Linked DNA regions of Homo sapiens. The protein of the gene in region 2 interacts with the protein of the main gene of each other region in a pairwise test. Each region holds a gene or a part of one and is shown on either strand. Other genes may lie near its edges. The genes, in order: SMARCAD1, CBS, ZNF451 and ZNF181.

Region 1 (5,499 bases), on a different chromosome or scaffold from region 2:
ATCAATTTGAACTGTACCAGATGGGTGTTCAGAAGTCATCAACTGATGAGTCATGTATCGATTACCTAGATAACTCTCATTGAAAAATGTGTCTAAGTGTGGGTAAGGAGGAGCGTGGGGGGTAGAAAATCCTTTATTTCTTTGTGGAAAATGGCCCCAAAAGGAAGCTAGTGCAGACTGATGCAAATCACTTGGTCTAAAAATGGGGAATAGTGCTTAGTCAGAACTGGTGACTCTGGAGAATTAAGAAGTAGAATTTTATTCTAGGATGTGAAGGAGTCCTCCATATATTATGAACTGAAGATAGAAAATGGTTCATAAAATCTGCTAGGCCATTTAAAACACTGTACATTAAGTGGGAGGGAATTCAAATTAGTAAATGTTTAAAAGGCAGTTAATTTGCAGTGGACGAGTATCACAGAAAATTCTTGCAAAAGATTAGTGATGTGGAAGAGAGCCAAGAATCAGTGTAAACACTGCGGTATTGAAAAAACTGGGAGTTCTTGAAGACTATACTTTTCCTAAACAATAAAGAAGTAACAAAACTTTTCTTGTGAAGAGGATTTCTTTACTGTCGCTTTTAGTTGTGACTTTGGTTTTATGAACTTTTATTTCAGAATATATTTCTCAGCATAGGCATTTTCTGGATATTCTAGCTTTGTCTAGTTTTATAGTTTACCCATAAAGAAATGTTACTAATTTACGTAGCCAATTTTGATACAGATGATGTAATGATCAAACTTTCCGCACATACTATATATCTGAGCTCTTCATCAATTTAAAATCGTCATCCTTCAGAAAATTAGGATATTAACCAAGACTTCTGGCCATTGATTAGGGAAATTGCTATTTTCTTTCCCATTATATTTTGGCTGGTTTCCAAACCAATCCAAATATAGAGTTATCACCTACTTAAAGTTACTTCATAGAGCATATGCACTATGAAAACAACAAAAGAGACCTAACAGAAGAATGGCCCAGATAAAACACAAATAACATATTTGGGAGAAAATATGCATTTATGCTTACTGTCTTAGAGGAAAACATTCTTCGTATTTCACTGGTGCTACTACTAAACATGTGTGGCATAACAAAATTCAACAGCGACATGAGTTCTAACAGATTGTTCTGTACAGGTGTGCCTGTGAGCAGCAAACGGTTATTTGCCTGTGAATGAAGGTAAAATTTATATTAGCTTTTTCTTAAAGAGCCACTCCTTTCATGTCTATCCTCCCCAGTGAAAGGTGAAGGGAGGAGAGATAAATTAAAACCATTATTAATAATTTAACATTCTGTGATAAATGATATAGTAATTTAAATAATTGACGTCCGCTATTATCAACAGCAATGAATACGAAAACCATTGGTCTTCTTTTATAAGTAGGTAACTTGTGTCCTCGTATCACCTTTATGAGATGATGAAAGATTATTTATAAATAGTTTAACATATAGAACAGGTAAATTATGGCTTATGACCTAATAATTTTTTAAAGGGTTGTTAAAAAACAAAATCAAAGAATACGTGACAGAGGCCATCTAGTCCATAAAGTGTGAAATATTTACTATCTTCCCTTTTACAGAAAAAACTTGCTAACACAGAATACTACATATATTAAACTACATAATACAGATTCTGCTAATAAATACTACATATATTAAATTACGTAATCTAAATTTTACAGTAATTTGGAAAACTTTACAAACATTCTCTTACATTAATTGTCATAAGGTGCTGGTAGCGAATGGAGCCCATATTCTTCAGCATATGGCCCTCATCAAAAATTGCGTAATTAAGTTTCAGCCGTCGAAACAGACTACGGTCATCAGAACTGCTGATCGCACAGTTATATCTGTCACCAAAAGAAAAAACATCTCTAAGGTTATACCTTTAAGAGCTTGGAGTCTAGTGAAATTTAATGTCTTATAAAATCATTTTTTATTTACACATTTCTAACAGCCAGTACTTAAAGCACAGCACTAGACACGGGTGATACTCAAATAAATACTGACGTACTTGTATTTAATAATTATTGATGTACACTGTAACCAAGCTATGAAAGCTGCAATACATAATTGAAAGAAAATGTTAAAAGGCTGGGAGCGGTGGCTCACACCTGTAATCCCAGCACTTTTGGAGGCCGAGGCGGGCGGATCACGAGGTCAGAAGATCGAGACCATCCTGGCTAACACGGTGAAACCCTGTCTCTACTAAAAATATAAAAAATTAGCCGGGTGTGGTGGTGGGCGCCTGTAGTCCCAGCTATTCAGGAGGCTGAGGCAGGAGAATGGCGTGAACCCGGGAGGCAAGAGGTTGCAGTAAGCTGAGATCGCGCCACTGCACTCTAGCCTGGGGGACAGAGTGAGACTCCGTCTCAAAAAAAAAAAAAAAAAAGAAAATGTTAATGTTACAATCGGACAACTTCTACATACCCAGGAGGAGGTCAATTTGGGTATAACTTGTAAGTAATCTGCTCCATGAAGTGTTATATTTTAATAAGCACAAAAAAGAACGTGAAGCTAAAACATGTTTCTCTTTAAAACTTAATATTTTATTAAACTAGCAGATTAGATCCAAGAAATAATAGTTAATAGCTAGCAGCTTGAGACTGCATATGGAGCCTGTTTTATTAAGAAAAAATAAAATTCCGCATGAATTTTTAAAGGACAGACTCCTACACAAGAAGCCAGTAGAGAGAAATAATAACTACAGTTAAAATAGAACTTTAAATAAATCAACTAATGTAACACAAGAGCATTAAGTTCTGTGCAAGATATTTACATCAATTATTACCAAGTAGTATTATTAGTATTATTTTTCATTTTTATTTCTGCCCTAACTCAAATTTTTCATTGAGAAAATGAAATTTCATTGTATTTATTACAGATACTTATTTGTAAGTTAAAAATATAAATAATTTTGGTGGGATATCTCAAATTTTACTTTAAGCTTAACTGAGAAATTACTATTACAAGACGACTTTTTTCAATAACTAGGCAAAACCTTTTTATAGTCACCATTAATGAGGTGATTCACTAACAAAAACCTCCTATATGGGTATTACACACCAAACTAAAAAATGCCTGAATCCTCAACATTAGTCATTCTATTACTTTCGTATCACAGTTAACAGCATAAACTTTCCTACATAGTACTACTACAATTTCTTTTTTAAATTTGGGGGCTGCATAAATATCCATCCTCCCCAAATTTCTCAATACTTACGTGGTCACAATTACATTGTAATCTTCATATCTACTATGAATGTTAAATCTAATTTGTTTACGTTCTTCTTGAGAACCTAGAATTTAAAAACAATAAACACATGACTATTTATTGTGCTGTACTTTATTTTTAATTTCCAAAGTTAAAAGCAGAATGACATATTCTTACCATAGTAACAGAGGACCTTCAAAGTAGGGCACCATAAATTAACTTCCCTTAACCAGTTATCTATGGAACAGAAGAGACATTATTTGCATCTGCTACAATAGGGTATGTTCACATGGTTAAATTAACACTAAACTTTGACAAGTGCTACTCAGAAATCAGTCTTTTATAAAAAGTAAATACTGGCCCAGCAAGGTGGCTCATGCCTGTAATCCCAACACTTTGGGAAGCTGAGGCGGGTGGATCACCTGAGGTCAGGAGTTTGATACCAGCCTGGCCAACATGGTGAAACCCCATCTCCACTAAAAATACAAAAATTAGCCAGGCATGGTGGCGGGCGCCTGTAGTCCCAGCTACTCGGGAGGCTGAGGCACGAGAACCTGGGAGGCGGAGGTTGCGGTGAGCCAAGATTGAGCCACCACACTCCAGCCTGGGTGACACAGCGAGACTGTCTTAAAAAAAATAAATAAAAATTAAAAATTAAAATATAAATACCATGGCGATTGTTTTTATCACAGACCCTTTACAATATTACTCCTTATGAAACCTATGTAAAATGATCTTGAGGTTTTGTGAGGCATCAAAATGAAGGGCAGATGACCAAATATTATATTTACAGTTGATTATTAACCTCCAATTTAAAGAGAAGGGGGTTTTCTTTGTTACATTCACATGTACAAATATTCTCTTATTCTAACTTCTACATCCAACGAATTGAGAAAGAATGGAACAGTTATGTGTGTAGGAATTAATTACGTATCTGTTTAATTCTACATTTAAAAGTACTCATTTTCTCTTAGTCACTTTTAAAAGTAACTAAAAGTATTATGAAACCAACATAAATCGTCCTTGGTCTAAAATTTTAAAACTGACTTACATTTGAGTTCTTTTTAAAAGACTGCCAATATAATCAAACACACATATATAAACAAAGGAGAAAAGTATAAAGAGACCATAAAATTAATATTCATCTCTACAAACTAAGAAACCACAACACCCCTCCGACACACACCCTTACACACACTCTCTTCTACCTATATAAAACATGATAAAGTTAAATACAGTTGTCTCCAGTATTACAAACCTATAGTTGAAGCTGGAACAACGATCAAATGAGGACCATTATTACCCTCCTGATAGAGGTATGCCAGAAATGCAATGGCTTGAATAGTTTTTCCTAGGCCCTAAAAAGTTTAAAAGACAATATATAACATTTTAAAACAAACAAAAAATAAATACATAAAAATACAGAAGAAAAAGCAGTAATTCTGTGCTGTATTCACTTTTGATTTCCCAGAATGCAACTCTAAAGGAATTTCTACTATGTTCTTAGTTCTCAAATGACAGAATTGATTATAATCTCCAAATGATGCTATAACTTACTTTACTGAGCAGTGGATAGATCTTCATTGCTAGTTCATATACAATACACATTAATATGGAAGACTTTTTGCATTGCATGGAAAGGATATAATTTTGGTTATTGCTTAGACACAGTGAATGTTTAATATCCACTGAATGGTTTAAGGGCAATGTCCCATGACTAAATGGAGGAAACATATGCCTAATCTATCCCAGCAATTCTACCCTTAAGAATATAATCATGAGATATGAGCGCTTATGTTGGCAAAAGGACTTGGGTAAGAATGTTCATAGTTTTATCTTAATAGCCAAACACTGGAAATAACCTAAATAGGTTGGGTGCCATGGTGCATGCCTGTAATCCCAGAACTTGGGGACGCTGAGGTGGGTGGATCACTTGAGCCCAGGAGTTTGAGACAAGCCCGGGCAACATGGCAAAACTCCATCTCTACAAAAATACAAAATTAGCCAGGCATGGTGGCGCATGTCTGTGATCCCAGATACTCGGGAGGGCTGAGGTGGGTGGACTGCCTAAGCTCAAGAGGTCGAGGCTGCAGTGAGCTGAGAGTGCGCCGCTGCACTCCAGCCTGGGTGACAGAGCAAGCACCTGCTTAAAAAGAAAAAGGAAAGAAAGAAAAAAGAAAAGAAAAGAAATAACCTAAATATTCATATCCAACAGAAGAAGATCAACAAATTGCACTGTATTTATACCACGGACTACCATACCACATGGCAATTTAAAAAAACAA
Region 2 (3,680 bases):
CAGCATGCGGGCAAAGGTGAACGCCTCCTCATCGTTGCTCTTGAACCACTTGTCCACCACCTGAGCAGGACCCCACCACAGCCCGTCAGCGTGGGAGCCGCTCCCACGTGACCAAGAGGGTGAACAGCCTCATGGTGGACCCCGTGTCTAGGCGGTAGGACCCCAGAGGTCTCACCCCAGCCTCTCCCCCTGGGATCGGCACGTCTGCAGACTTTCCAGTTCCAACACGTTTTGCAGACAGCAAAACTGCCCGCCAGCCCCACTGAGCATCCGTGTGACCCACACCGGCCCTTCGGTCTCTGCTCTCCCTCAGGCCAAAGTCAGCTTTTTGGCTCTTAACAGACTTTTCCGGGGCCTTAATTTTCACACGTTTTCCCTGCTCCCTGCCTGTGCCACCTGGGCTACATCCCTTGGTGAGGTCAGGCCACGTGTGCGGACATCGTCCCCCAGTCTACTTTGTCTCGACCTTCGAGACCAGCTTCTCACCATGCGTGCGGGGCTTGCCCTTCTGTTTCAGTGGAGAAGCTGGTTGGGGCCCAGGGTCAGCCAGGCTCCCCAGTGTGAGGGTGAGTTACAGGCTGCACCGGCACTGTGGCCGGGCTCTGGACTCGACCTACCGTCCTGTCCAGCACCGTGGGGATGAAGTCGTAGCCGATCCCTTCCACCTCGTAGGTTGTCTGCTCCGTCTGGTTCAGCTCCTCCGGCTCTGCGAGGATGGACCCTTCGGGATCCACCCCAATGATCTGCAGAGGGCGCGGCTTCAGGGCTCAAGGCCAGCAAAAGCCCCGCCTGGACATGCCTCGATATTCTATTATGGGAGTGGCCAATACCGCCGTTAACAACTGCCTGTTAATGATCTGCCTGTGGGTGGTGGCCTGTTCCCAGCCTCAGAGGCAGGATGAGAAACCCAAGAACCCAGGCTCCAAGTATTAAAGCGGTAATGACCTAAATGTTCAGTGCAGGGCGCTCAGAAGTAAAGGCAGGTGCCTGGGAGGAACTGACCTCCCCGGGGTGCTTCTCGGAGCGGGGCCCCCAGGACAGTCCAGACAGACCACCCTGCGGCGGAGCAGCAGAGCCTTTGGGGACAAAGGGCATTGCTGGGCAGTGACGTCTTTTTCAAGGGCAAGCAACAGGGAGAGAACGCCCTTGTCTCATCAGCGGGACCTTTCTAGGCACCCGTCCTCAGACCTGCTCTTAACCCCGAGTCCAGGAACCCTCTCCCAACTCCCACAAGCCCCAGTTGAGGGGCAGACTCAGGACCAGAGGACTTAGAGCTCCTGGCTGATCCTCAGAGGCCCCCAGTTGGAACTCCGACCCCCCACTCAGCGCAGGAAGGTTCTCCAAGACACTGGCCGGTGAGCGAGCACCCAGCCCCAGCTCCTTCGGGTCACGAGCTGCTGGTCCCTTATGTGTCAAGCACCCTTGTCTTCCCAAACACCTCCCAGGCAGCGCAGAAATACCGCGGGAGACAGCGTGCTGAGCAGACCGTGAGGAATGACAGCTTTCAGCTCAGAAGCCGGGGCCACTCCGCACTGCCCCTCTCCGGCCCGGCCACACCACTCACCCTGCATCCAGGACACTTCTCCTTCAGCTTCCTGGCAATGCCCGTGATGGTGCCGCCCGTGCCCACTGAAGCCACCAGCATGTCCAGCTTCCCTGGTGGACGGATAACATTCTTGGGTCCCTGCCTGGCCAGCCCATCACTCATAGTAATAATCATTGAAAACACACTCAGCCCAAACCACGGTGGGTAACCAAAAAGTTCAAAAGAAAAACTTCTTCTCCAGTTGGAGCAGCCCTCGTTGCTGCCCTTGGTCTGTGAAAGCCTCAGAAACAGGCAGCCTGGGGCACCCCAGCCCAGTCTTTGCTCAGTGACACTCGACCCCTAAAACCCCCATTTGGCTGGATGCAGAAAGACAGGACCCTGTCCGGGGGGTGCAGGCGCTGAGGGCGGGCAGAGGGAGGCTGTGAATTAACCACCTCCGTGGGCTGTTGGATGTTTGCGTGGTGTGAGTGAGTTAACTGAATTTACACAGGAAATGGAATCAGTCTTTTAGGCTTCAGCGCAGAAACTCGCTGGGCGCTCACACTGCTGGCCGCCAGCGCGGGCATCTGGTGGAGAAGTCACAGCAGGGAAAGACTCAGCGAGACGGAGCAGCTTGGGCACCCATGCTGAGACAGGACTGTTTTTGCCAAATGAGAGAGTTCTCACACATAAAGCCCAAACAACCAAATGCCTGGACCTTACAGCCCGGCTCCTGGGCACGGACTGAGGGTGTACTCCAGCCCATGCCAACACCGGATTCCCAATAGGAAGCCAGGGCGCCAACCTCTTGGCAACTTATCTCTAAAGGGATCTCTTGGGAAAACCTCAGTACCAACCCCCACAGGCCTTGGCACCGAGTCCCTGGAAAAGGGCCCAAGGAGCCGGCCTCATGCTTGTAACAGAGAGTGAGCTCATCGCAGATGTCACCAGCTCTGTTCTGCAGATGAATTTGATGCCGAGTCAGGGCATGATCCCAAATGAAGTCCAAGCTGTGAGCCCAGCACCAGCCTGGGCCCTGAACAGACTCGCTGTCTGCATTATCTGCAGGAGGAGCCCCTGCAGACCTGCAGAGATTGCTGGGTAAACAAATACAGCCATGCCCTGTGTTTGCTATTACAGGTAAACCACAGGCGGAGGCCAAGAGGGCACAACGGAGGGAGGAAATTGTTCTAGAGAAATGCTCTAGAAAAGCATTTCACAGAGGGAACATTTGAGCTGGGTTCTGAAGGGTGAATAGGAGTTCACCAAGGAGAGGGCAAGAGATGTGTACACTCCCAGGCAGCCAGGGATAAATGCAATCAAGATGGACAGAGGGACGCACCATCACACTGCTGCAGGATCTCATCAGCGGTGGTGTCGTAGTGAGCCAGGGGGTTGCTGGCGTTGCGGTACTGCATAGAAAGAGAGCAGAGCCCGTGAGCTGACCCCTGACACCTCAGTCACCCCCACATCCCTGACCGAGACCCTCCTAGGGAATGCCTGTCTCCAGGCCCCAGGTGCCTCACCTGGTCTAGGATGTGAGAATTGGGGATTTCGTTCTTCAGCCGCCAGGCCACCCCCACGTGTGACTCCGGGGAGTCGAACCTGGCATTGGTGGGCGTCCTCACAATCTCAGCCCCCAGTGCCCGCAGCACGTCCACCTGCAGGAGGGAAAGCGGTGGCCTGCACCTTCCGCCTGGCCCAGGCACCCTCATCCCCTGCCCTATGACCCCGCCCCTGGCCACGCCCACCCACCTTCTCGGAGCTCATCTTCTCTGGCATCACGATGATGCAGCGATAGCCCCTCACTGCCGCAGCCAGGGCCAGCCCGATCCCTGAGGGCACACAGAGGGTGAGAGGGGCCCAGTGACCCCCCAAGCCCTGCCCCGCCCCTGCCTGGGACACAGGGGCACACCCCGATGCCGGTTCCCTTAGGGCCCAGGGAAGAGGGTTCTGTGGGATTCCAAAATTGCCCAACATGGCTGCTTCTGCCTTCAAGTGCAGGGGGAGAGAGGCTGCCAGAGGCAGAAATAAAAGGTACACGTCAAGGAGGAGGAGGCAGCGGCGCAGGACAGGAGATCTGGTTCCTCCAGGCCCAGCCGGGTACACAGGCACAGGAAGAGCAGACTCCGGGTGCTCGTCTTGTGTGCCAGGC
Region 3 (5,499 bases), on a different chromosome or scaffold from region 2:
GATAACCTTATTTGTCCTTACTCCTTCCCTTTAAATATTACTGCAGCTTTTTTTTTTTGTTGTTGTTGTTGTTGTTGTTGTTGAGACAAGAGTCCCTCTCTGTTGCCCAGGCTGGAGTGCACTGGCGTGATCTCAGCTCTCTGCAACTTCTGCCTCCTGGGCTAAAGCGATTCTTGTTCTTCGGCCTCCTGAGTAGCTGGGATTACAGATGTACACCACCACGCCCAGCTAATTTTTGTATTTTTAATAGAGACAGAGTTTTGCCATGTTGGCCCAGATGGTCTCGAACTCATGGCCTCATGTGGTCCACCTGCCTTGGCCTCCCAAAGTGCTGAGATTACAGGCATGAGCCATCCTGCCTGCAGCTATTTTTAAATTATGTTTTTGATCATTTTCTTTCTTCCTTTCTTTCTTTCTGTTTTTTTTTTTTTTTTTTTTTTTTTGAGATGGAGTTTCGCTCTTGTCACCCAGGCTGGAGTGCAGTGGGACAGTCTTGGCTCACTGCAACCTCTGCCTCCCGGGTTCAAGCAATTCTCCTGCCTCAGTCTCCTGAGTAGCTGGAATTAGAGGCGCCCACCACCATGCCTGGCTAATTTTTTGTATTTTTAGTGGAGACAGGGTTTTACCATGTTGGCCAGGCTGGTCTCAAATTCCTGACCTCAGGCAATTCGCCCACCTTGGTCTCCCAAAGTGCTGGGATTACAGGCATGAGCCACCGTGCCCAGCCTGTTTATCTTATTTTTTTCCAGCCCATTTTACTTTTTACCTTGCATCCTGTCATCTTTCATCTTCTTCTTTACTTTCTGTGCATGGGAACTCTGCCTCTGTGTATTTCTGGTTACCGGGGCGGGGGGGTAGGGGGGCGCTTTTGTGTTCTGCTATTTCTGTGGACCTATAATGAAGGTTCCTAATGCATATTTCTTGTAGAGAGCAAAGTAAGATGATTATATCAATGGGAAAAGCTATCATTTTAATTTTTCTTCTTGGATCGAACATACAATTTTCAGTCTTTTTTTTTTTTTTTTTTTTTTTTTTGTGACAGAGTCTTGCTCTGTTGCCCAGGCTGGAGTGCAGTGGCACCATCTCAGCTCACTGCAGCCTCTGCCTCCTGGGTTCAAGCAATTCATCTGCCTCAGCCTCCTGGGTAGCTGGGACTACAGGTGCCCGCCACTACACCCTATTCCTATTTTTAGTGGAGACAGGGTTTCACCATGTTGGCCAGGCTGGTCTTGAACTCCTGACCTCAAGTCATCTACCCACCTCTGCCTCCCAAGGTGCTGGAATTACAGGTGTGAGCCACCGTGCATGGCCTACATTCTTCATACCAGATGTAGATTTTAAAGTAGGTGATTCAGCTCTGTTTACCATATATTGGAGAGTATTGCTTCCTCTGTTTCTTTAATTTTTACTTCCGTGTTTATAGTTTGAGCAAAAATCTCAATTCCTTTGCTACAGATCCCTGCCCAGTTTTGCCCTCTTGTTTTATCTTGGTATCTGAATTAGTACCCAAAAGATGGCAGTTTCTTGGTTGAGCAGAAGTCATAGCCTAGGGGAGAAAGAAGCTATCTTTGAGACTGGATGCCTATTCTAGGGAAGATCATTACCTAGATCTCAGCTTCTGTCTCCAGCAGTCAACTTTCTACATCCTACAAAATCCTTTCCTCAGCTATTATTTCTTCTGTGTTCCTTTCTTTTGTTTCCAACATACTGGATTTCTCAAAAGAATATGGCCTTTTCTACTGCATTCTCTAGTGTTTTAGAGCCTGGCTTCTGTGCTCACTACTTTCTTGAAAGTTGCTCTCTCAAAGACATTTAAAAATGTCTGGTTGCCACATTCAGTGGCATTTTATTGTTGCCGTGTTTCTGGCCACATTTAACACTGACAGCTTTTTATTGAGGCAATATGATAGTTCAGTTTAGTTCTAGAGTTTAATAGTCTTCTAGGGGAGCAACTCTCAAGTCTTTATTTCCAGGTATGTTCATACTTCCCAGATTACAGGCCTGCATTTCCAGCTGTCTGCTAGATACACCCTGTGTACCACTGTTACTTCAGCCCATAGGAATGTCAGCTTTCTGTTTCTGCTTTCCAAAGTTATACTATTGGCATTACTATTCTTATAGTCACCTGAGGTTAAAAACTTAGAGATCACTGACTCCTTGTTTTGTTTTTTAAATAATCTTTTAAATTTATTTTTATTTATATATTTATTATTATTATTATTATTATTATTGGGATAGTCTTGCTCTGTTGCCCGGGCTGGAGTGCAGTGGCGTGATCTTGGCTCACTGCAACTGCTGCCTCCCAGGTTCAAGCAATTCTCCAGCCTCAGCCTCCTGAGTAGCTGGGACTACAGGCACGCACCACCATGCCTGGCTAATTTGTACATTTTTAGTAGAGATGGAGTTTTACCATGTTGGTCAGGCTGGTCTCGAACTCCAGCCTGGCCAACATGGTAAAACCCCATCTGTACTAAAAGTACACAAATTAGCCAGGCATGGTTCTAACCTCAGGTGATCCCCCACCTTGGCCTCCCAAAGTGGTGGGATTACAGACATGAGCCACCACACCTGGCCTAATAATCAATCTCTTTTAGTTTTCCATTTTACTTGTATTCTCTTGTATATCCACTACCATACTCTTCTTGCCATCACCACCATTAGTTCTGCATTGTCATGTGCCTATACTGATTATCTTGCTTTCCCTGCTCTCCATACTCCTCTATGTGATTGATCTTGAAGCACAGTTCTCATGTTATTGTCTTATTATTATTTTTTATTTTCTTTTGCCTATTGAATAAAATCTAGGCTTTTAAGCCTGACATTCAAGGCCTGGTTGATGAAGAAATTGGCATGGATGGAAAGAAAGAATGGAAAAGAATTCAGGTTTGATGCTTGACTCTGCAGTGGTGGATGATGAAGCTGAGCTATAAGTCAATTCATTTTTGAACTTGGATATATTAACAGACTTTTGATACCAATTCTAGGTGTAAAGCACTGGATTATAATATTTGTGTCTTTGTAGCACTGTTCTTATATTAATTTTCCTTTCCCAAGTAATTGACATGGCCCTAATATTCTACAGGGGTGTAGGTGCTTCCTTTTAGGTCTTGTCATCATTTTACATTTATATATTTTGAATATTTTCCTCTGCTGCTTTTGTTCTGGTTATTTTCTGCTACCCACAAAGCTCCCTCTTCAGAGTAATTCTTGCCAGTCCCAACCAAAAAAAACACTGTAGGTTTAAATGCTAATTTGGTTTGAATAACTGTTAATGACTTCTAAATTTGCTTGATTGTTTATAGGAAGGACCATTACGACCTGTTCTTGAATACATTGATCTGGTCAGCAGTGATGATGAAGAGCCTAGCACCTCTTATACTGATGTAAGTACATTATATTTGATTTGTGTTTCTTCACTTGTGTCTTTTAAGAGGTATTCTCTAAAGAGAGTTACCAAATCAGGGAAGGCTGTGTTTAGAAATAGCCAGTTCTATTAGAATGGGCTAAAATAGGTAGTCCAAGGAGTCCTTTGCCCAGATCTCCTACTTCCAGTTTTTTTCCTCTACTTTGAATGAGATTATGAAAAAAATGATAATATGACTCTGGGAAATTCAGAGCCTTAGAGGTGATATCTGATAAAATGGAAATGGAATAAAAACTGCAAGCTTATTGATTCCTCTTTCCCTTCTCTTTTCCTTTACTCTCCTCAGGTGCCCTATACAACAGGATTCTTTTGTTCCAGAACCACATGACCACAGAAAATTTGTTTTCTCTTAGAAAAAAGGATATGTAGAGATCCTTTTAGGAATGGAAAGTGGGGGAAGGGTTTATAGGGGATATATTACTTCAGTCATCATCCCTTTAACCTTGTCTGTGCCCCACATATTTGGAGTTATTTATCTTACCTGTGATGTACTGGTTGTAGGTTTGACCCTTGGACCAATACTTCCCTTGCTCTGAGAATTGAACTAGTTGAGCCCTTTGTAACAGTCTTGCCTTTCATTTGTCCTTGCTTTAGCCCAAACTTCTGTTAATGAGCTGTTTTCATCTTGGATTAGAAAACTCTTAGTTATTGTTCAGAGTGGCCACAAACTTCTTGCTCTGTGATATAGGGGATTGAGACTTGGACTTGGAATCAGAATACCTGGGTTTGAGTCCCAGCTTTACTCTTTACAAATTCTGTGACTTTGGATAAATTAAGTAACCTTTTAGCCTCCGTTTTTTAATCAAATAATACCTACCTCACAGGGTTGTTGTGAGGATGAAATGAGGTAACAAATTATAACTTCTTATAACTACAAACCATAAAGTAGGACTATACAACTGGGAAGTTTTGTTATTCGTGGACAGTGAATGACAGAATTTTCAGAGGTGCCTAAAATGACTCTAATGGGGGAGTTTTAGATTTTTTTTCTTCTCAGTGGAACTTTCCTTAAGTTCTCTTTGCCATCATTAGCTTCTTGCATATCTTGAGTAGAACTTAACATATCTTGAATGGGATATTTTTTTCTTTTATTCTTATGAGTGGTCTCACACAGGACCAAACAGCAGGCCAGCATAGCACCACGTGATCTGAGCTTGTTTTTACTCTCTCCTTTTTCATAAACAGAGTCCCAGATTAATGCCAGTAGTTGATTTTGGGTCTTTGGGGTAGTGAAGCTTGTGGATTTGACTTCTCTGATTCCTTTTGCTGACCTTGAGTGGATTGTATCTTTCACTGTTAATTATAATAATTTAAAAATTGAGTTCTACTTACTGGACATGAATCTCTGCACTTGAAAGTTAACATATTAAAAGCATATTTTTTTTCTTCCTTGGTTTTCTTGTTCATGTGGATAACCCAGAGAATGCCTGAATCTAAGGTGCCATCCTCTGAGAATCATCGCCCAGAAATGTGCTCTAGCTGCAATGTTCCTCTTCCCATTGGAGATAGCAGCTCCTTCTCTGGGAGTTGTTCCAGCAGTCCAGAAAGGATAGTTTCTCAAACTTCCTCTGTTGAGAACCCATTGGAGAACCAGAAAAATGATCAAAATAATTCAGATACTAAGATCTCTGAGACAGAGACCCTTAAATCATCACAGAATTTTCAGACTCTGCCTTCATCTCCACTTCTGGTCCCCCAAGAATCTTTGGCCTCTTCTGAGGTCAAAGAGAATTTACGTATAGATTCTTCTTCAGCTTCACAGCATGGACGGGATGCCATCCTCTATCTCCAGACACAAGTAGCTGAAATGTCCCGAGTGATACGTGATCTGCAGTCCAGGAGCTGTTTTAGATTTCATCATTCTAGGCCAAGTGAGAACTCCTCAGTTCCTTGGGACATCTCCACCTCTAAAGAGGAAAATTTATCCACAGTTGAAGAAGAAACTGATTACAAATCACCATCAGCTGATGACAAAGGGCAGCCATCTGACCCCAGCCAATCTAGTTTCACAGGTCTTTTGAAGAGAATGGAACAAAGAGGTGTTATAAAAAGGGTGACATTACAATCTGAAGCGG
Region 4 (6,194 bases), on a different chromosome or scaffold from region 2:
AAGTCAATTTCTATTACTCAGTCTGTGGTATTCTGTTATAGCAGCACCAATGGACTAAAATATACACATAACTGATTCATAAACAAAAAAGAAAAATATATTTATGGTGTATACTTAAACTTTGTACTGATAGACAATTATTAAAATATGAGACCCCTGGGTGAAAAGACTGAAGGATGGTTTCATGCCATAGATCAGGGGTCCCTAATCCCCTGATGGTTAGGGGTACATAACCACTGGTACCAGTCTGTGGCCTGTTAGAAATCAGGCCACAGAGCAGGAGATGAGTGGCAGGCAAATGACTTTTATCACCTGAGCCCTGCCTCCTGTCAGATCAGCTATGGCATTAGACTCTCATAGGAGCGCAATCCCTACTGTGAAGTGCGCATGCAAGGGATTAAGGTTGCACGCCCCTTATGTGAATTGAACTAATGCCTGATGATCTGAGGTGAAACAGTTTCACCCCCAAACCACCACCTCCTGCTTCTGTGGAAAAACTGTCTTCCACAAAACCGATCCCTGGTGCCAAAAAGGTTGGGCACCACTGCCTTAGATAGTCCTTAAATAAGACCTGAAAGTAAAGGGAAAAAAATAAAGGGGTACGTTTCAAAGAAAATAAGGAAATGTTCACAGATGTGGCTTAGAAATTCCTTTCAATAGTACTCATTTCACAATATTACTTTTTAGTAAAACTTTGGAAGCTTAAATATTCAATAATAGTTTATTGGCTAGTCAAATTATAATATGTACAAAAAATACATCTATTTAATACAGCATTATTACTGTCTTTGATTTGTGAAACAGACTGCTTGCCTGTGGTAATTTTTTAGCTCTGAGAGTTAATTCAGCATTGTATTACATTATTTGGATATTTTGCATGCATGTTCACCAGTGATACTCGTCTTTGGTTTTAAAGGCAGAATTTATTTTTGCCAGGTGTTGGGAAAATAATTAAAATTCAAATCTCCTGCCAATGGCAGAAAATCCTCTCCACAAATGTAGAAAAAAAGAACACAGTTTTATTACTTAATAATCACTAAATCAACTGTGATGCACTTCACAGGCAATCCACTAATGAGATTAAAAGGACAGGAAGAAATCTCTTTTTTATAGCCAAGCAGATACAATCCAATACATACATTTTCCAAATAATCAAGTAAGACCTTACAGTTCAATTTGCTACACATAATTTATCCTAAATTCACCTGTTAATTGGAGTTGCCACTGTGTTAGTTAATTCCCTTTATCCCAAATCAAAAAAACATTTCTCATAGCTTTATGATGAACAGGTTATTACAAGTTAGAGCCAGGGATGCTTCCTTCTTCCCCTTCAGTTGTCTGGGCAGCCTGGGGTGTTCACTCATCTCTGTCCCCAAAAGAACATAGCCTATCTGTCCTGGCATTTATTTTAATTTCTTATGCTTTCTTACTTTTCTACCAGTGCTGCAATCCTCAATACAGTAGCCACTAGGCAATTTGGCTACATACATTTAAATTAATTAAAATGTAAAAATAAAATAAGTAAAGTTTAAAATTCAGTTTCTCAGTTGCTTAAGCCACAGTTCAAGTACTCAATAGTCATACAGGGCTGGTGGCTACTGTACTGACCAGTACACATGCAGAGCACTTCCACCACTGCAGAAAGTTCTCTTAGACAATACTGCACTAGATCATGAAGTCCTGTGTGTCAGTGTACACCAAAATCCATGTACAACTTTTCCTAACAGATACTTCCTAAGTGTTTAGAAGATGAACCAATGAATGATTTTGGCATTAGTTCACTTTAGCTGTTACTTTTTTCTTGCTCTGCCGCCAGGCTGGAGTGCAGTGACATAATCATAGCTCACTGCAGCCGCACACCACAGGGTTCAAGAAATTTTCTCAACTCATCACCCTCCCGAATAGCTGGAAAAACAGGCATGTACCACCACACCAGTTTTTCAATTCTAATTATCTAACTTCTCCAAGAAAACAGACTTCACCCAACATGTACATCTGCTACTCACATCCCCTCCTATGCAAGCTTCACCTTCCATGCCATGATTCTGCCCCACCAGTTCGTCATTACTCATCTTATTCACTCCACAATTACTTACTAAGCATCTATTTGGTGCCAGGTAACCCTCTGGGTACTGAAGCTATAACAGACAACAAAAAAGAAAAAAGATTCCTCCCACCAGGAACAGACAATGAGCATGTGCATATACTGAACATACAGTACATCAGCTAGTGAGTGACACACACTGTGGAAAACAACAAAGCAGTGATGGAGGAGTGGAAGTGCTAGGCGAGGGAAGGTGACTGCGATTGCAAATAGCCATTCAGGGAAGCTTTTCTGAGAAAGTAACCACGGAACAAACACACGAAGAAGATAAGGATGCAAGTTTGTGCGTATGTGGGGGAAGAATATTCCACGTCGATGGCACAGCAACTAGTGACAGTGGCTAGAGCTCACAGGAATGAGGAGGCAGAGAAGGAAGGTGGGATCAGAAAGGTAATGGCCTAATTGTACAAATAGGTCATTGCAGAAGTGACTCAGTTAGAGCCACTGAAAAATTATAGGTTGAGGAATGACAGGAATTTATGTAACAATAGGACCACGGTCACAGCTGTACTGAGAACAGACTGATGAGGGTTAAGGGCAGATGCAGGGAATCCAGCTAGGAGGCTACCGCAATAATCCAGGTGGCTTTATTGCTATCACTACCGGGGTGGTAGTGGTGGTGGTAGTGCTGGGGTAACTAATGGTCAGATTCTGTATACAGTGTATAGCTTAGCTCCAACTAGAGGATCTGAATATAGGTATAAGTCAAAGGGAAGAATCAAGGATGACTGCAAGCATCTCTTCACTTGAGACCACATGGTACAGTTTTGACAACCATAAACCGAATAACCTTACATTCCAAAGTTGCATTGTGAATTACAGTTTTAAAATGTTGGCAAGACTAGAAAGTCTTCTAGCAGAAAACTGTAGAAAAGAGGAACACTGGGTGAGGAGGATAATACCTTGGAGCTCTCCTGTGGGCTCCGTCCTTCCTATACTGAAAGGAACCATGGATCCAGTCCCTTAAATGGACTTGGTTAGGTGGGAACAGGCAGGAGAAGCAAAGCAAACACACAGTCCTGATAAAGTGTTTCAGGAAGATTTGCGGACACACCGACCTACCTGAGGCATTACTCTGCAATTTCCAACAGCCAACAGAGTCCTCTTTCCAGGCTCTTATCTTAGAGATGGGCAGTGTCCTGAGGGCACAGAAGGGCAGGAAAAAGCAGTCATGAAAAATCAGGCTTATCTTGCGGCACCTGTGACACACCATAATGGAAAGGCACACTGGTAATCACTCTCCAGGGCGCCAATCTCTCCCTGGGAACTAACAGGGTGTTTCTCCGCAAGGGCTAACCATTTACCAGGTGCCACCTGCGAGGAAAATCAATTACTCTGTAAATAAAATCCTCATAAAACAATGGTAAAAACTTTATCAGCTCGTTCAGTCTTCACCACTATGCACGGTGTGCGTTCACATTTTTCCAGATCTATTTTTTAAACGATGACAAAACTGAAATTCCAAGATACTGAACCCATTTGTTCAAGGTTACACAACTGTAGAGCGCCGGCTTCATGACGACATAACCCAAAGACAACTGTGGCTGGCGTCTAACCACGCGCCCACTTCACTCTCACAACAGCGCCAAGAGGTCGGCGCCGTCATCACCCCGCGTTTACATAGGAGGACATGAAGGCCAGGAAAACCAAGGCACCGGCCGGGGTCACACCGCGGGGCAGACCCAGGGCCTGAGCCCCGCCGCCGCCCCCGGGACTCATACTGGCCGGAGTCCTCAGCAGGGCCTCACCGTCCCCGCAGGCGCCCCGCGTCGCTGGTGAGCGGGCAACGGCCGCCGACCTCTGGGGACGACACTGCCCAGAATCGTCCCGGAGCCTGGGAGTCGCCGTCAGGCCTGAGGCTACAGCGGGGCGGACCCAGTGCGCCGCCCACAGCCGATCGACATTTCCCAGAATCATCCGCGCAGGGGACAAAATTCCAGGCGCAACGAACCGCAGGTACCGGAAGACCACACTTCCCAGGAGTCTCTGCGGCCGCGCGGACCTGGGGCGCCGCGGGCAAACAGATCTCGGTTTCCTAAAAAACTAAACCGCCTGGGGCTGTCGTCCCAGAGCCCGGCAGTTAGGACCATGCGGGAAGTGTCCTGGGGCATATAGTCATACTGATGAGGTGAAAGATACACCTCGGAACCAAGGGCCACCCTCTACTTTTAAGGACAATGGCGCCGGGACCAAGAAACTACACTTCCCAGAAAACCGTGCGGCCGTGGCAAACTCTTCTGGGTCTAGCGTGCGCTCACACTAATGTTTATCTCCCGGGACGTGGGCAGACCTTGTACCAGGCGAGCTCTCGCCTTTGCTAGCAAAAGAGCTCCTCTCTTCCCAAACCCTGCTACTACGCTGTCCACCCTGTATGGTCTTTGAGGTCTTTGAGGTTTTTTTGGAATTCACTTGCTGGAGACTACAGCTCACAGAACGCCCTGGGCTGGATTGTGCCAGCTGTAGTTCGCGAACCAAGGACATTTCCTGGAAATGCATGCGGCCACGTATCTGTGACAGAAATGGCAGTTCTCACGTGCGTTACGCCCCCTGGAAGGACTTGGAAATACGGAACTTGAGTGAGCACTGAGAGGACACAGACCCTCATCCTGGGAGGAGTCACTCCTCCCGCAGCCATCAGAGCCTGACAACCGCTTCTCACCAGAGGCGCTTCTTAGACCCTGACCTTGCCCGGCTCACCCAAAGGGGCAATGGCCTTCTTTGTATGCAAGCCAGACAGTCTACTGTTGTATATTTGAATTTTTTACTTTATTTTTAATATTTTAATTAAATTTTAATTTAATGCTGCCTCTACCTCTGAGAGAGACAGGGAGAGATGGGGGAGGCCTGGAGTGGGGGCCCTGCGGGGCAGGGACAGGGGACCCTTCCTCACTTTGCACAATCTGGGAACCCTCCCCAAGCGGAACAGCCAGCTGCAGTGGAAAAGCACTGGCTTAGTGGGCTTCGTCCTGGGGACGAAGGCTGGGAGACTGCAGCTGAAAGGTGTGGGCTCCAGGAGGGCCGCAGGGGGCCTAGCAGCAGCGTCAGGGAGCAGAAGTCCGCCCTCCCTCCATCTTCCTTCCTTCTCTGGCCGCCAGAGCGCTCTGTCTCCCTCCCACGCCCACAGCTACAGGTGGAGCCGGCTTGGGGCGGGGGGGGGGTCCTCCTAGGGCGAAGAGGGCCAGGAGCCTTCCTGAGGACCTGAGGCTCCTCTGGGCCTCCCAGGGCTGGGCCTGTGATCTGATCTGCTTTGCCCTGGGAGGGACGTGCTCAGTGGTGGGGTTTGTGTAGCTGTCACTCATTCACCTGCCTGTGCTCAGCCACTCACCTGCTACTCCCATTGGCACCCACCCAGTACACATGTGGGTCGTCAGCTGCCATCAGGAGTAGTTCCTGCCTGTGTCACACACACCCATCCCACCCACCACACTGCAGGTTACAGGATTGCCCCACAAGCGCCACCATGCCTGCCTGAGGTTACCTGGCACACAAGTATCCTCACCTGCATGACATGACCAGATCGTGCACTTTCTATGCCAGGACCAGGGCCAGGGCAAGCTTGCACCTTCAGCCTTGGGGACACTGGGGGTGGTGGTGGCTGGAGGCCAGGGAAGTCACCAGGCTGGAGACATCATCTACCTCCAGGAGAGGGTTGATATCAGACATCTCCCATGCACCACTTTGAGCTATCTCAGCGTCACCTGGGACTCTGGCTGGCACTGTGACCAGCAGTTCCATGAAGGTTTAGACCACCTCTAGGCTTAGGAAGGGCCTCCCTTGCCATCAGCGTGGTCCAGGCTGCACGCCTGGTGACCAAGGGCTCTGGGCAGCAGATGCAGCCAGCCAGAGTGTTGGGGTGAGGGGCCTGGGCACAGGAGGGACGTGAGGCCTTCCCTGCACCCCCATGACCACCATTTCAGAGGGAGGACAGCAATTGTTTGGGTTTGTCCTGTGAGCGGTGGCAGAGGGCAGGGCCCAGGGCAGGTCCAGGGCCAGACAGGCATCCCATGCTACAGCCTCGGGGCCACGAGGGCACATGATGGGGTCGGTGTGAGGGCATCCCCTGTGCCAAATACCTGGGCAGGAGGTGCCC

Evidence for each region.
Region 1: the proteins of CBS (region 2) and SMARCAD1 interact in a two-hybrid assay, tested with the Homo sapiens proteins (one large-scale study listed by BioGRID).
Region 3: the proteins of CBS (region 2) and ZNF451 interact in a two-hybrid assay, tested with the Homo sapiens proteins (one large-scale study listed by BioGRID).
Region 4: the proteins of CBS (region 2) and ZNF181 interact in a two-hybrid assay, tested with the Homo sapiens proteins (one large-scale study listed by BioGRID).

What each region holds. Positions count from the first base shown.
Region 1 is NC_000004.12:94,272,690-94,278,188, reverse strand, and holds part of SMARCAD1 (SWI/SNF-related matrix-associated actin-dependent regulator of chromatin subfamily A containing DEAD/H box 1), read right to left. Parts: intron 4,573-5,499; coding exon 4,473-4,572; intron 3,452-4,472; coding exon 3,392-3,451; intron 3,300-3,391; coding exon 3,224-3,299; intron 1,851-3,223; coding exon 1,715-1,850; intron 1,168-1,714; coding exon 1,030-1,167; intron 1-1,029. UniProt on the Homo sapiens protein: DNA helicase that possesses intrinsic ATP-dependent nucleosome-remodeling activity and is both required for DNA repair and heterochromatin organization.
Region 2 is NC_000021.9:43,062,336-43,066,015, forward strand, and holds part of CBS (cystathionine beta-synthase), read right to left. Parts: intron 3,361-3,680; coding exon 3,281-3,360; intron 3,187-3,280; coding exon 3,052-3,186; intron 2,938-3,051; coding exon 2,868-2,937; intron 1,657-2,867; coding exon 1,565-1,656; intron 744-1,564; coding exon 618-743; intron 61-617; coding exon 1-60. UniProt on the Homo sapiens protein: Hydro-lyase catalyzing the first step of the transsulfuration pathway, where the hydroxyl group of L-serine is displaced by L-homocysteine in a beta-replacement reaction to form L-cystathionine, the precursor of L-cysteine.
Region 3 is NC_000006.12:57,095,759-57,101,257, forward strand, and holds part of ZNF451 (E3 SUMO-protein ligase ZNF451), read left to right. Parts: intron 1-3,302; coding exon 3,303-3,383; intron 3,384-4,844; coding exon of another isoform or gene 4,845-5,499. UniProt on the Homo sapiens protein: E3 SUMO-protein ligase; has a preference for SUMO2 and SUMO3 and facilitates UBE2I/UBC9-mediated sumoylation of target proteins. Plays a role in protein SUMO2 modification in response to stress caused by DNA damage and by proteasome inhibitors (in vitro).
Region 4 is NC_000019.10:34,732,019-34,738,212, reverse strand, and holds the start of ZNF181 (zinc finger protein 181), read right to left. Parts: upstream 3,971-6,194; 5' UTR 3,176-3,970; coding exon 3,167-3,175; intron 1-3,166. UniProt on the Homo sapiens protein: May be involved in transcriptional regulation.